Linked DNA regions of Homo sapiens: region 2 is linked to region 1. The links come from fine-mapping of genetic effects on gene expression. A gene starts in region 1. The other region holds a variant in brackets. All regions are shown on one strand. Distances are from middle to middle. Region 1 holds the start of SLC9A3-AS1 (SLC9A3 antisense RNA 1). Region 2 overlaps SLC9A3 (solute carrier family 9 member A3).

Region 1 (4,206 bases):
GCCTGGGCTGCCGTGAGTGAGGTGTTCTCACTCTGGTTCCGTGTTTGTGTTTAGCCTGTGCAATTCTCGTCAACACAGAACACCTGCCTGCCCACCCCCGGTGCTGAAGACCGACCAGTCAAGGAGGTGTTGGTGGGAGTGTTGTGTTCACCATGTGGAGATCAGGCGGCGATTACCGCATCTTCTTTGCTGACTTTGGTAACCGGGTGTCCAGGGAGGAGCGATCGGGAGTGGCCAAGCAGTTGCCTGGACTCAGCTTCTGACTCTGCAGCTGGGAGTCAGATGCAGGCCCAAGGGTCCAGGGGAGTTGTTCAGCGCCTGGAATCGCCATGCATTGCGCGGTGGACCGCACGACGCTCCTGCTCTGTTCTCCCAGGCACAGACAGGCACTTGGAAGGCAGCTTTGCTCCTCTGGCCACCCGGAAACCTCCCAGCAGTTCAGATGGGACAAACTGGGGGCCTGTCAGAACAGCCACTTGTGCCGGGAAGGCCAGGCCCCGGCCTGCTCCGATGAACGTCAGGACGGTGGCTGCAGCAGGGAACCAGGGCTGGCCTTGGATCTGTCCAGTAGGGTCACTGACTGGGCAGGGCTTGCTGCATAGAGGATGGCTGCATTTTGTGCTCAGAGTTGGTTGAAATGGCTACGAAGTGTGGAGAATAACCACTGAATCCCAAAAAGTCACTGCGCTTGATCTGATCCAAGTAACAGTGACTGCAGTTAGGGTCGAGAGCTTCTCCGAAGCAGCGGTCATGCAGGCTTTTGTGTGGCTGACGCTTCCCTTTTTCACAACAGTAAAAAGCTATCAATGGGAAATTGTGGACTTTTCCCACCAGGGACTCAATGGGGACTCAATGTGCAATATTCAGTCAACATAAAACTCTTTAAGAACTCCTCCTGACTGGTGACTGTCAACACTTGATCTGAAACGTGAATAGTTTAATTTTCCTGAGCAAGGAGCTGCGAGTCTAGCTTTAGAAAAGCCCCTAGGAGTGTCCACCTCCACCACTTCCACCGTGCAGGCAGGTTTCAGGTGGGTTGGACCCTGTGGGACTTGCCGTCTGAGGGATGGATGGACTCCGAGCACCCTCCCCGGCTCAGCACCCGCGGCCTCCGCCCACTCAATGGACTGTGCCTCCCAGAGCTTGGGCTGGATGGTCTCCCTGCAGAGGACCAGGAGCTCTGTCCAAGGCCTCGCCCTGGGACGCTGGAAGGGGTGGGAAGGGTCAGGGGTCCGGGGTCTAGGACAGGCTCAGGGGTCTCAGCAGGTTCTCCTTGGAGGGCCTGAGCCTGGTAGGGGGGCGGTGCCCTGGGCCCCTCCATGCCCCCTGGTTTGTTAAGGGGGACAGAGCAGCTGCTGGGCCCCACCATCCACTTAAGGACTGGCCGTGATTCTTGGCAAGCTCCGCCCGCCAGGCCACCTCTCACCCAGCCAGGGCACCCCGGGCGACCTCCGCGCCAGGTGCGACAGCTCAGGCCGGAGACCTCGTCTGTGGGGACGGGCCGTGTCCGGGGCCGCCACCCTGAGACCGGGCGCGGGCAGGACGGAACCTGGGGGGGAAACGGGGCAGGTACTGGCTTTAGGAGTCTAAATCCCCAAACGCTGAGCAGACGGAAGACGTTCCTGCCACTTTACCTGCAGTTCAAAGACCTGGCGAGGGCCTGGAAACGGCGCTCGGCCCAGGCCGCTTGCGGGCGCTGGGCCTGCAGCCGCTGCAGGTCGGGCCCTGAGTCCTGGCGCTCGGGAGGTCCCTGAGTCGGTCCCCGAGTCAGTCCCCGGGCGCGGGGCTCGGTTGGGGGGGCCCGGAACCTTGGGCTGGTTTCACGCAAATCCGTTTGGGGCGAGCCTCGGTTTCCCGGCAGCGGTGGGAAAGGGCGCGAGCGGCCAGCCATGGCGCGCGGACCCTTCCCGCCGGCGGCGTCACAGCGGCGTCTCCTCCTGCTCCAGCGCGTGCGGCGGTGCGTGGCACGAGGGCGGCAGCGACGCCAGCTTCAGCAGCGCGGGGCGGCGGCGCGCGCGAGGCCGCTGGAACGAGCGCCGGCTGTGCACGCGGCGCGCCGCCGCCGAACGCGCGTGCGCACTCGGCAGCCCTCGGCGCTCCGGCCCCGCCCCCGGCGCAGGCCCCGCCCCCGGCTCGCCCTCGGGCGGCTCTGCGGGCGCAGGCGCGGCACTCTCGGAGTTCTGCGCAGGCGCTGGCGTGGGCGAGGCGGGGCTCGGGGCTCGCGGTCGCTGTAGCCGCGCGGGGATCTGGGGTTTCTCTGGGACAGCGGCGGCGGCGGTGGGCGGACCGTGGCGCGGGGACGAGCGGCCGGTTAGCGGCGTGTCGGAGCCGGTGTCACCTGCGGGAGAGGAAGGCGTGAGCGGCGCGCGGAGCCCGGGCGCTGGGGCGGGAGGGGCGTCCCCGGGGGCCTCAGCTGTCCCCGAGCCCGGCGGCTCTCGCCTCCCCTCCCGCGGCGCACCCCAGGCTCGGCGTCCGCTGGGGCCTCCTCCCAGGACCCGGGTTCGCGGGGCAGAGGCGGAAGCAGCAACAGCGAAGCCCCAGCCCGGCCCCGCCACGTCCCCCCGCCGGGGGTCCCGGGACAGCGGCCTCCTCGGCGCAGGAAGGTCCCGCCCCAGGCCCTGCAGCGCGGGAGGTCAAGGTCCCCAAGGGGACCTGCTTCCTCCATCTCAAACCGCCCTGGCGTCCCCCGGGTGCCTCCCAGGCCCCCAGAGGGAGCTCAGAAAGCCCAGACCCCACGGCCCGCCCCTCTCCCTGCTCTGAGCTGGAGGCAGAGTCCGGGTCTGCGGGGCCGGCCCTCCCTGTATCCCTGTGAGAGGGTCGGGGACCCGGGGCGTCTGTCTGGCTTCCCCCAGCCCTGCTCTCAGCTCCCTGGGAGCGCAGGATTTGGACTCGCGGACTAGCTTTCGGAGCCACCTAAAGGAAATCTCAGGCGGCCCTAGTGCCCTCAGCTCCGTGGGAGCAGCAGAGACGCCAGAGTATCTCTGTCCGGGCTCCTGAGGGAGGTGCGGCCAGCAGGGCGCTAGAGGAGGAAGAGGGGCTGCTGGAGAGAGAGAGCGCGCCAGGTTCAGGTCCAGGGAGGAGAGAGAGCGAGCGCGCGAGGCGGAGACCTGGAGGGAGAGGAGCTGCGGAGAGGGGTTAGGCGGGGAGGGAGAGAGAGAACCAGGTTCCGGTCCAGGGAGGAGAGAGACAGCGCGCGCGAGGCGGAGACCTGGAGGAGAGGAGCTGCGGAGAGGGGTTAGGCGGGGAGAGAGAGAGAGCGAGCCAGGTTCAGGTCCAGGGAGGAGAGAGACAGCGCGCGCGAGGCGGAGACCTGGAGGGAGAGGAGCTGCGGAGAGGGGTTAGGCGGGGAGGGAGAGAGAGAACCAGGTTCAGGTCCAGGGAGGAGAGAGACAGCGCGCGCGAGGCGGAGACCTGGAGGAGAGGAGCTGCGGAGAGGGGTTAGGCGGGGAGAGAGAGAGAGCGAGCCAGGTTCAGGTCCAGGGAGGAGAGAGACAGCGCGCGCGAGGCGGAGACCTGGAGGGAGAGGAGCTGCGGAGAGGGGTTAGGCGGGGAGGGAGAGAGCCAGGTTCAGGTCCAGGGAGGAGAGAGACAGCGCGCGCGAGGCGGAGACCTGGAGGGAGAGGAGCTGCGGAGAGGGGTTAGGCGGGGAGAGAGAGAGCGAGCCAGGTTCAGGTCCAGGGAGGAGAGAGACAGCGCGCGCGAGGCGGAGACCTGGAGGGAGAGGAGCTGCGGAGAGGGGTTAGGCGGGGAGGGAGAGAGACAGCGCGCGCGAGGCGGAGACCTGGAGGGAGAGGAGCTGCGGAGAGGGGTTAGGCGGCGGGAGGCCCGGGAGCGTTACATGTGTGTGGACTCGGGGAGGGCGGCGGGGGGCCGCTCCTCGGGGCCGTCTGCCTGCAGGAAGGAGTCCACGGACTTGCTGCTGAGGCGGAAGGGCATCAGGCGGCAGAAGGTGCCGGGAGAGTAGGGAATCTGCGTGCGGGCCCTCTGCGAGGGGACCACCGTCTCCCCGGGAGACAGCCAGGGCGGCAGCCTGGCCAGGAGGCTGCGGTCCAGGGCCTCGTCCGGAGAAAACACAGGGTTGTCAATTCCTAGGAGAGAGGGCAGCGGCTAGTCAGCCTTCGGAGAGCCCCACGGCGGCAGGGGAGACCTCGCCGGGGCCGTCACCTGCTGGGTGCCTTGGAAAGTTAGGGTCACCGGGAAGGTTAG
Region 2 (4,492 bases), 29 kb after region 1:
TGCATCTGCGCATAACGTCTCCGTAGATCAGCAGAAGGCCCAGCCACTCCCAGTCCAGGGTCCAGCCCCTCTGTAGGGGCCACTGCTCAAGCCAGCATGGCTACAGAGATACCATGGGAGTGTGGAGGGGCCACTGCACCTCAAAGAAGAAGGAACCCACAGCCCTGGGCCCCGTCGGAGCCACCACAGGCGCAGGGCACAGCCTCCTCGGCCCAGAGCTGTTGGGCAGGAGCTGCAGGGTGGCTGGGACGCAACAGGCAGCGACATCTTCAACCTTCTACCAGAAGAGCCTCAGGTCCACCGCACTGACTGCGGCAACCCCGGCCCTGTGGGTTGAAAGGGCAGAGGGTGTCTGAGGCCTTAAGGAAATGAAGAGAATAGAACTCGCCCCATGGCACACACTGTGAGGGAACCAGGCGGTGTGGGACCCTCCCGAGACGCACTATGCAGAGCCTGGGCTCAGCCACACAACTGCAGAAGCCAAACCACGAGAAGCTCCACAGACGGAACCGGCTTCCGGCACCACTGGGACACGCCACGAGGCTCCCCCAGCTAGGTGCACACACGGCATGCGACTGGCGTGGATCCCTGGCGAGAATGGAAGGGGGGGTGGCAGGAGACGGGGACGGGACCCTCCAGGGACACAGGAAACACACACCAAGCACGGAGAGGCCAGGCGGGCCGGTGTGGACAGGGGGCCGGTGTGGACACGGGGCCAGTGTAGATGGGGCCAGTGTGGACGGGGCTGGTGTGGGAGGGGCTGGTGTGGATGGGTCAGTGTGGACACAGGGCCGGTGTGGACATGGGGTCAGTGTGGAAGGGGCCGGTGTGGATGGGGCAGGCGTGGATGGGGCTGGTGTGGACATGGGGCTAGTATGGATGGGGCTGGTGTGGATGGGGCCGTGTGGATGGGGCCAGTGTGGATGGGGCTGGTGGGTGTGGACGGGGCTGGTGTGGACGGGGTCAGTGTGGACACAGGGCCAGTGTGGACATGGGGTCAGTGTGGAAGGGGCTGGTGTGGATGGGGCAGGCGTGGATGGGGCTGGTGGGTGTGGACGGGGCTGGTGTGGATGGGGCCAGTGTGGACACAGAGTCAGTGTGGACATGGGGTCGGTGTGGACGAGGCTGGTGTGGACACGGGCCGGTGTGGACAGGGCCAGGCCCTGAGTCCGCCTGCCACAGCCCGTGTGGCTTCCACACAAGGGGACAAACCTGGGGACACGCAGGCCCTCAGGTAACTGATTGCCGAGGCTGGAGAGTCACAGCTAATTAAGCACACAATGGCTTGGTGGCCTGATGGTTACGACAGGGGACAGACGCTTTTAGTTCTAATTACAAACCCTGTGCCTGGAGGAGGAAGGGCCGGCGCTGGCAAACCAGACATTTCCGGATGGGCGCCGGAAAGGGCTTCTCTCTGGGCCCCGGGGGGCTCAGGAAGGCCACGGCCCAATGCATGTCACACCCCTCGGAGCACAGAGGGACGGGGCTTGGTCAGGCCCAGGGCCTCCGCCACCTCCAAGGACCTTTCAAGGTGGCAGAGATTCAGCCGAGTCCACAAAAATGCAACAGCGCAGTCAATCCTGTGGTTTTACTTTAACAGGAACACGTCCCGGAGGATTAAACTCTGCCTCCCAGAAACAGCCTGGCTGAGCGGTGGGGCGGTGAGGCCAGGAAGGAGGGCGGAAGCACAGGTACCCACCCTCCCGGGGGACGAGGGGCCGGGGCATTCCACAGGCAGGCGCAGACACATGCAGGAACACGTGCACGCACACAGAGACTCGCAGAGACGCAGAGACGTGCAGAGACACACAGAGGAGACACGCACAGGGTCCACCCTGTTCTCCTAGCACAGCTGTGGGTCTGAGTTCTCTGCCACCCGCCCCTGCAGGTCCAGCAGAGCTCGCCAGCACACTCTGACCTCAGTATCACTTTACCCGCCTGTGGGGCACCGGCGAGGAATCACGGTAAATGTGTCGGCCGTCAAGCCCAGGGCGGAGGTAAAGGTGCTCACGGAGGTCCGCCGTGCGGCCTGGCAGACGTGCCTGCGTGACCCCACGCGTCCCTGCCTGCGGGTGCAGTTCCCCGTGAGTACTCAGGTTGGCGTGGGACAGGGGAGCCGGCTCCCGGGGGCCACGCAGGAAGCCCCTCTCCGAGCGAGGCCGGGCCCCCGGGCCGGGAAGCTGCTTCCTGCCAGATGAAGTTCACACAGCTCCAAGAACAACAGCCCGTTCAGGACTGGACTCCCTGCGCTCAAGTCACAAGGCGTTTTACACATTGTACATTTACAACACTCGAGCAAACCTGGTCGGTTTTTAAATTGAAACATGAATGTTGCCCACGGTTCCCTAGAGAATCAGGAGATCCTTCGACTCCAAACCACCCTGAGCAACCGCGCTGGGGCAAAATGAACGCAGCCTCTGAGCCAGCCACGGCCTCTGTCCAGGACGCTGGGCAGACCCCACACCCCTTCCTCTCTGGGACCCAGCCGCTCCGGCCCCCCACCCCCAGAGACGGCCCAGGCCCCCTTATTAGCAGCGTGAGAACAGACAGACACAGGCAGGTCCCAAGCTGCCCACAGCAGAGGAAAGACCTGGATGCAGATCCCAGCTGCCACCACCTCAGGGCTTTGCTCA[A/C]AGCAGCAACAAGCTTCAGCTACCGCAGACCCAGCGGCGCCTACCAGGGGCCGCAGCGGAGCACAGTCCCCGGCAAGACACCGGTCGCAACGTCCTGGGGCAACGGAAGTCACGAGACACGTGAAGTGGGAATGTGGCCCAGCTCAAATCAGAGGAGAACGCAAGATGGTCAGACCCTGGAATCAGCAGACAAGGGCCTAAAACAGCAGCTCAAGGATAGAAAAGAAACGTTCTCATAACCACTTAAAAAGGACAAGCCGCAGCGGTGGAGTGGAACAGGGCTTGGCACATTTTTTCTTAAAGGCAGATTGTGAGTATTTTAGGTCCTGCAAGCTGCCAACAGGAGGATCACTTCATAACCACTCACTACCAGTGAGGCCGAAAGCCGCTGTAACGACACAGACGGGCGCCGAAAGCCGCCGTAATGACACAGATGGGCGCTGTGTTCCAGTGAAACTTTACCACTCACTACCAGTGAGGCCGAAAGCCGCCGTAACGACACAGATGGGCGCTGTGTTCCAGTGAAACTTTACCACTCACTACCACTGAGGCCGAAAGCCGCTGTAACGACACAGATGGGCGTTCCAGTGAAACTTTATTTACAACAACCAGTGGCCGGCCCACGGGCTGTAGTTTGCTGATGCCTAAAATAGAACTTATCAAAGAGAACCAAGCAGAAACCCTAGAATCTCTGACATAAAAACTCAATGGATAGACTTACGAGCAGACAGAAATGACAGTAAAGAGAGTGAACTGGAAGACAGATCAGAAGAAATCATCCCATCGGAAGACCAAGGAGAAAAAATGGTTTTTAAAGTAACCAGAGCCTCAGTGGCCTGTGGGGCAAAATCAATAGCTTGTAGCCGCAGCACTTTGGGAGGCCAAGGCAGGAGGATCGCTTGAACCCAGGAGTTCAAGACCAGCCTGGGCAACACAGCAAAACCCCTTCTCGACAAAATAAATTAAAACATTAGCTGAGCCTGGTGGTTTGTGCCCATAGTCCCAGCTACTCAGGGGGCTGAGGCCAGAGGGTCCATTGAGCCTGGGCGGGTTGAGGCTGCACCCCAGTCTGGGTGACAGTGAGCGAGGCCCCCATCCTTGCCCAGAAAAAGGCCTGATATATGTGTAGCTGGAGCTCTGGAAGGAAGGGAGAATGGGGCGGGGAAACCTTGAAGAGCGAATGGTAAAAAATGTCCCCAGTTTGGTGAAAGACACACATTTATAGATTTGAGAAATTTTGCAAGCTCCAAGCAATGCAAGTACAGGGAAAATCCTGCCTGTGGGCACGGCACAGTCAGACTGCTGAAAATCAAAAACAAATGGAGAATCTTTCCATCTGTATAATGTGTGTGAGTTACCAATAAAGAACTTTCTTCTTGTTCCATGAAATGGGCAAGGAAGGCGTGTCTGCTGGAAATCTCATCCACGGCTGTGGTTTCTCCTGAATCGGCGAATCGTCTGCGCGAGGCTGGGGCCTCTGGACAGAAGACTGGGCCCCCAGAGCTCTTGGGGGGTTCCCATCTTCACCCGGTGCCTGGATTCTCAGGGTCCCACCCACCCCCACCTTCCTCACACTTCACCCTCTCTTCTCTCTTGCCCTTATAAAATCATTCACTTCAAAGTAGAAATTATGAAACCGTCTTCATCAATCACGGAAGTTTAGCATTCCCCGTGTTTTTGCCTTTGGTTTATCAACAACTAAACAAGGGAAGGGAACAAGCTTCTGCAGAAGCTTCCAGCAAGGAGACAGCGTCCTATATGAGGCGCCTGGGGAGGGAAGGTGCCGGAAGGCATCGCTGTGGGGCTGCCGCCAGCTCCGGAACCCCCGGGAACCCAAGGGGCACACGTCTCCCCGTGTT

Evidence for each region.
Region 2: its variant is fine-mapped to the expression of SLC9A3-AS1 in whole blood (INTERVAL, PIP above 0.99).

The regions. Positions count from the first base shown.
Region 1 is chr5:471,045-475,250 of GRCh38, forward strand. SLC9A3-AS1 (SLC9A3 antisense RNA 1) reads left to right here and starts at 2,192. Exons shown (of 7, transcript NR_125375.1): 1 at 2,192-2,355; 2 at 4,093-4,206. SLC9A3 (solute carrier family 9 member A3) reads right to left here. Exons shown (of 17, transcript NM_004174.4): 16 at 3,839-4,088; 17 at 1-2,338. The coding sequence ends at 2,335. SLC9A3-OT1 (SLC9A3 3' UTR overlapping transcript 1) reads right to left here and starts at 1,921. Exons shown (of 2, transcript NR_024158.1): 1 at 1,635-1,921; 2 at 1-921. RefSeq lists enhancers at 873-1,515, 1,516-2,156, 4,084-4,206 and silencers at 1,400-1,529, 1,890-1,959, 2,080-2,899.
Region 2 is chr5:499,786-504,277 of GRCh38, forward strand. The region is part of intron 1 of SLC9A3 (solute carrier family 9 member A3); the gene reads right to left. Among named protein-coding and RNA genes, the nearest start is that of SLC9A3, 22 kb to the right of the region's middle. The variant A/C (reference allele first, on the strand shown) is at 2,634.